Regions from separate parts of the Homo sapiens genome. Here region 1 is linked to region 2. Evidence: fine-mapped expression QTL. A gene starts in region 2. The other region holds a variant in brackets. All regions are shown on one strand. Distances are from middle to middle. Region 1 overlaps FA2H (fatty acid 2-hydroxylase). Region 2 holds the start of FA2H (fatty acid 2-hydroxylase).

Region 1 (2,903 bases), 62 kb before region 2:
CACTGCAGCCTCCACCTCCCAGGTTCAAGCAATTCTCCTGCCTCAGCCTCCTGAGTAGCTGGGATTACAGGTGCATGCCACCACGCCCCCCAGCTAATTTTTGCATTTTTAGTAGAGATGGGGTTTCACCATGTTGGGCAGGCTGGTCTCGAACTACTGACCTCAAGTGATCCGCCTGCCTCGGCCTCCCAAATGCTAGGATTACAGGTGTGAGCCACTGCGCCCGGCCTGTTTCACTCTTCTTAAAGAAAATTTTCAATTTTTTTTTTTTTTTTGCTAAATCTTGCTCACCTTAGGCTTTTTCTCCTGCTGTGGCCATGTGTGTTTACACTTGCGGAGCTCCTCCTGTGTTCTTCCTCTGCCTCCCTCCCCCTGGGTGTGATGGTCTAGGGTGAGCTGCTCAGCTCCATCAGTAAATGAAGGTTATGAGTTCTGCTGCTTGGACGGGCTGGGTTCCGGTGACAGGCTTCAGGGACTCGAGTGATGGGTGGCTCCGACGGGTCCTACTTATCTTCGGGCTGGGAGCTGCAGGCATAAAGCTGCCCCTATGACTGCCAGAGCAGGGAGACACAGCAGAGTTCTGGGCTCCCTCCGAGGCTCCCCAACATCAGCTTGCTTCCGCTTCCGTGTCCTCAGACAGGTGAGTCCAGGGCCTACCCCCCTGGACCTACTGAACTAGACCCTGAGTGCGAGGCCCTGGAGCTGCACTTCGACAGCTTCCTAGGTGGTTCCGATAGGGCAGCAGAGAAAGACAAGCAACAGTTTCACCGAGACTGAGCTGCTTGAGGTTCTAGTTCCCACTATGGGCATTTGTTGCTGGAGCCTTTCTCCCTCTGTTTTAGGAAAGTCGACTGGAAGCTCAGTTGGGGTTAGATAAACTCCAGAAGAGATCCCTCCCCATTGGCGGATCAAAGTGGTTTGTGGGCACAATGCATCCCAGGTGCAGGCAATAAGAGGAGATGCTGTCTGCAGAGAATTTAGAAACAGAATAAAGCTGAGTGAGAGAATAAGAGTCAGTCAGCTTTCTCCTTTTGTTTTGTTTTCTTTTGTCTTGTTTTCTTTTATTTTTAGAGATGGAGTTTTGCTATTTTGGGCAGGTTCGTCTTGAACATCTGGCCTCAAGCGATCCTCCCACCTTGGCCTCCCAAAATCTTGGGATTACAGGCATGCACCATCGCGCCCAGCTGAGAGTTGGTCAGCTTTTAATCATCACCATGCCCCAGCAATTCTACCCACCCTGGTCAGGGCTAGAATCTCCCTCCCTGGGGACCAATCCTCTGCCCCTCTATCCCTCCCCACACCACTGCCCCTTCCCAACCACGAGGGAGTCTGATGAACAACTCATTTTTGTTGGTTTCTTTTCAGTGTTTTATTTTTCAAAATATACAATTTAAGTTTTTATTTCACAACCGTAGTTTTGTATATTTATTCCAAAATCTTTAAATAGCTCCGCAGCAAACAGTACAAATCACAAGGTCCGTCAAACTGCTTCTCTTTAGCCTTTACACTTGGCGA[G/C]TTTTTTAAGTTTCAAGTAGTAATGGTTTGTGGGTAAGAAAGGAACCAAAAACAGGAGGAAACAACATTTTTTACATAAGCTCAACATGTAGGATTAGAAAGGGCCGTCTGACCAGCTCCTTGGTCTGGGACCAGACTAAGAACATGTATCTGGTTTATAAATAAGACCGTCCTGGGAGCAGTGAGGGTTTTGGTTACGAGGAGGAAGGGGCAGGAACCTCATCTGCGGAGGCTGGGAGGCAGGGGGAGGTGAGGCACTGAGAGGTGGCTCCTTCTGGGAGCGCCCGAGTAGGGGCCTGAGCGGGGTGGAGGCCAAGAATGGCCAGGGACGGGGTGGGGCTGCCACTGGTGGAGAAGCCTCCTCAGCCTCCCTTGGGGAGAAGGGCTGTGATTCTGGAGGCAGGGGAGGGACGGCAAGAAAAGCTGCCAGGTCCTAAAGCAAGCAGCTGGGACTCCTGCCAGCCACCCTGGGCCCAACGACGCAGGCAGCTGGCAGGGCCAGAGGGGCTGCCCCAGGGTCTGGGGTGGACTGTGGGAGGCATCACGCTGTCTCTTCTTGCGAGAGCTCTTTGTCCACCTCAGAGCCACCAAAGCCTCCCCAGAAGGGACAGCAGGGAGGACAGGGACCACAGATCCCACAGACCCACTTCTGACTGTGAAAGCGAGCTGTGCCGTGCAGGCAGCTCCTAGGCAGCCCATGAGGCTAAGGCACAAGGGTGACACAGGTGGCCACGAGGGCTCAGTTTTCTTCATTTCCCCTTGCGGCTGCTACCTGTGGCCACGGCCTGAAGCAGTCCTGTGGGCTGAGCTCTAGGCAGGGACGCTCCAGGAAGAAGTGGGTCACCAAGGGCCACCTGGCCACCAAGTGGATGTGACCCTCCTACCAGGGGTCAGGAGGGCGGTCCTGCCTCAGGGCCCCCTCAGCACCTTCCACTAGGCTGCAGGGCCGGACACAGCCCATCCTGCCTGGCCAAGCCAACCTTCTTAATGGGGTCTGAATGGCGGGTGGGGGTCGGGAAGGGGCCAGGGCCGGGCTGAGGGCAGGACGGAGGGGGTGGGAGTTGTCACTGCGTCTTCAGGTGGGGTTTCTCTGGAGTGAGGGTGTGGAAACAGTAATCCCACAATTTAGTGCTGATACCAAATCCTAGAGAGGGAGACAAACGGGGAGAAGATGAGGCATTGAAGGAGCAGGCGTGCGCTGGCTTGGGAAGGGTGCCAGGGTAGGGATAAGAGGTGGAGACAATGTCAATATCTGTCCCCTTGGCCTTCCCAACTCCCGAGGCCATTCTGGCAGAAGTCAAGGGTGGGGAACCTGTGTCTTTTATTGTCCCCAGCATGAAGCTGGAATAAACCCTAATTCCTTATCTGGCCTTCGTTTCTAGGCTACG
Region 2 (2,903 bases):
GGCCCCATACCAGTCCCAGAGCCAGGCCTGGGGAACATCAAGAGAGTCGCTTTGCCTCTGGCCTGAGCCTACCTGGAATCCTGTGGACTAGGTCTGTCTCCTCCACCCGAAGACTTTTGGGATGGAGCCAGCATTGATTTTGGAGTCAGATACATGTGGCTTTCCCACTATTTAGCTATTTGACCTTAGGCGCATTAATCAGAGCCTCCCTGAGCCTCAGATTCCATATCCTGAAATGGGAATAACAAAACCTGCCCCAGGTTGAGTTAAGGACTTAAATACCATCGGGAGCTGGTACTGCACAGAAGCGTGCAGCTCAGCACACAGTCTGGTCCAAAGTGCTGGTCCCTTTTCCTTGGCAAAACTGGCTCATGCCTTTCATTTCACTCTTTTGGAGTCCCAAGCCAGCGTGTAGGACAAGAATATAAGGGAAGGTCTGAGAGGTTGGAGGACACAGTCCACCCCAGACATGGCCCAGGCAAGGCCAGGGCGGCACCAGGAAACCCAAGCTAGTGAGAAGAGTTACTGATCTGTGCCTCTTTGAAGCAGAAGTGAGGTGGGATGGGGAGGTGGGAACAGGTTGAGCCCATTATCCAAACAGAAACGGAGAGTGGTTGCAAAGAGGGAGAGGCCGATAAGTGAAGAGGAAGGAAAGCCGAGGCGTATGGGGGGCTGGGGACAGAAACGGGAATCCAGGTTGTCGGAGGGCAGGGGCTGCAGAAGGAACACGCTGGAAGGAGGGGTGCTGGGGAAATGGGAGAGCTGGCACGGAGGCGGGCCAGGCGGTAAGGGTGGAAAGGAAGAGCAAGTTCCTGGAGAGAGGAAGGAGGGGTTGGAGGGGACGACAGTGACCTGTTGCCTGGAGAGAAGAGAGGGAAAGCGAGGGAAGGGAGGGCAGAAGCTGTCACCTTGGGTCCTGCTAGAGGGCAAGTGAACGGGGCTCGCCCGGGAGTGGAAGGCTGACGGAGGCCTGGGTTGGGGTGGGGGGCCCCGGCCCGGCTGTACCTGCTGCTCCCCGCGGAGCTCTCCCACGTAGTACTGCTCCAGCCAGCGGCGCGCGTTGGCCGAGTGCCTGTGCGGCGGCCCGTCCAGGTCGGCGCTGATGTCCTGGCCCGCCCTGGCCCGCAGCAGCTGCTCGCCCCCCGGGTGGTGCCGCACGAAGCTGGAGAGGTCGTAGAGGCGGGCCCCGCGGCGGACCCAGCACGCGCCGGCCGCCAGGCGCCGCTGGACCTCGGAGGGCGAGAAGGAGGCGGCGGGGGGCGGAGCGGGGGCCATGGCCGGAGACCGCAGCTCCCAGCGCGCAGCCCGGCGTCTGCTCTGCTGCCACCCTGAGCGCCTCTAACATCCCGGGAGCCCCGCGGCCGTTCCGGGCGGGCCGCCACCGCACCTGCTCATTTGCATACCGCGCTCCCATTGGCCGGCCGGGAGCCCCGGCAGAGCCGCGAGGGGCGGGCCCGGCGCCGGGAGCTGCGCGCCAGGTGGCCGCGGACAGGGAGTGCCGCGCCCGCCAGGTGTGTCCCGCGCGGGAGGAGGGTGGGCGGACACAGGCGGAGCGAGTCTCCCCGTCGCGGGTGGTTGTCTGGGCGGACATCCTCGGTGGCCTGATCGCTGCTGGAATAACTTCAACTGCTTCCACGGAGGAGCTGGCCGCATGGGACCCTCTGGCTCCAGGAGGTGCCCGAGAGAGCGAGAGGCGAATGAGGTGCTCGCCTCGGGTGCAAATATTTGTTTGTTTTTAAAATTTCAGTAGCTTTTGGGGTACCAGTGGTTTTTGGTTACATGGAGGAATTGTATAGTGGTAAGTCCTGAGATTTTAGTCCACCTGTCCCCCGAGTAGTGTACATTATACCCAATGTGTAGGGTTTTGTGTGTGTGTGTGTGTTACACCCCCTCCCATTCTCCCTATTGTCCATTATATCACTCTGTATGCCTTTGCGTCCTCATAGCTTAGTTCCTACTTATGAGTGAGAACATACAGTGTTTGGTTTTCCATTCCTGAATCACTTTCACTTAGAATAATGGCCTCCAGCTCCATGCAAGTTGCTGCAAAAGACTTCATTTCGTTCCTTTTTATGGCTGAGTAGTATTCTATCGTGTATATCAACTACATTTTCTTTATCCACTCATTGGTTGATGGTTATTTAAGTTGGTTCCATATCTTTTCGATTGTGAATTGGGCTGCAAAAAACAAACATTCGTGTGCAAGTGTCTTTTTCATATAATGACTCTTTTCCTTTGGGTAGATACCCAGTGGTGGGATTGCTGGACCGAATGGTGAATCTACTTTTTCTCTCCTCCCCTCCCCTCCCCTCCCCTTCCCTTCCTTTCCCTTCCCTTCCCGTGACAAGGTCTCACTCTGTCACCCAGGCTGGAGAGTAGTGGTGCGATCTTGGTTCACTGCAGCCTCGACCTCCCGGGCTCAAGCAATCCTCTTACCTCAGCCTCCCAAGTAGCTGGCACTACAGGCATGCACCACTACGCCTGGCTAATTTTTGTATTTTTTGTAGAGACGAGGTTTCACCATGCTGCCCAGGATGGTCTCAAACTCCTGGGCTCAAGCGATTTGCCTGCCATGGCCTCCCATAGTGCACTTTTTTTTTTTTTTTTTGAGACAGAGTCTCACTCTGTTGCCCAGGCTGAAGTGCAGTGGCACAATCTCAGCTCACTGCTACCTCCGCCTCCCGGGTTCAAGCGATTCTCCTGCCTCAGCCTCCAGAGTAGCTATGACTATAGGCGCGTGCCACCACGCCCGGCTAATTTTTTTGTATTTTTAGTAGAGACGGGGTTTCACCATGTTGGCCAGGTTGGTCTCGAACTCCTGGCCTCTAGTGATCCTCCCGCCGCAGCCTCCCAAAATGCTGGGATTACAGGCGTGAGCCACCGCGCCCAGCCCCAAAGTGTAC

What was found.
Region 1: its variant is fine-mapped to the expression of FA2H in nasal epithelium (TOPMed, PIP 0.99).

The regions. Positions count from the first base shown.
Region 1 is chr16:74,711,611-74,714,513 of GRCh38, forward strand. FA2H (fatty acid 2-hydroxylase) reads right to left here. Exons shown (of 7, transcript NM_024306.5): 7 at 1,359-2,659. The coding sequence ends at 2,580. Among named protein-coding and RNA genes, the nearest start is that of MLKL, 12 kb to the left of the region's middle. The variant G/C (reference allele first, on the strand shown) is at 1,516.
Region 2 is chr16:74,773,481-74,776,383 of GRCh38, forward strand. FA2H (fatty acid 2-hydroxylase) reads right to left here and starts at 1,340. Exons shown (of 7, transcript NM_024306.5): 1 at 1,006-1,340. The coding sequence starts at 1,275. RefSeq lists silencers at 977-1,026, 1,067-1,436, 1,447-1,576, 1,587-1,646.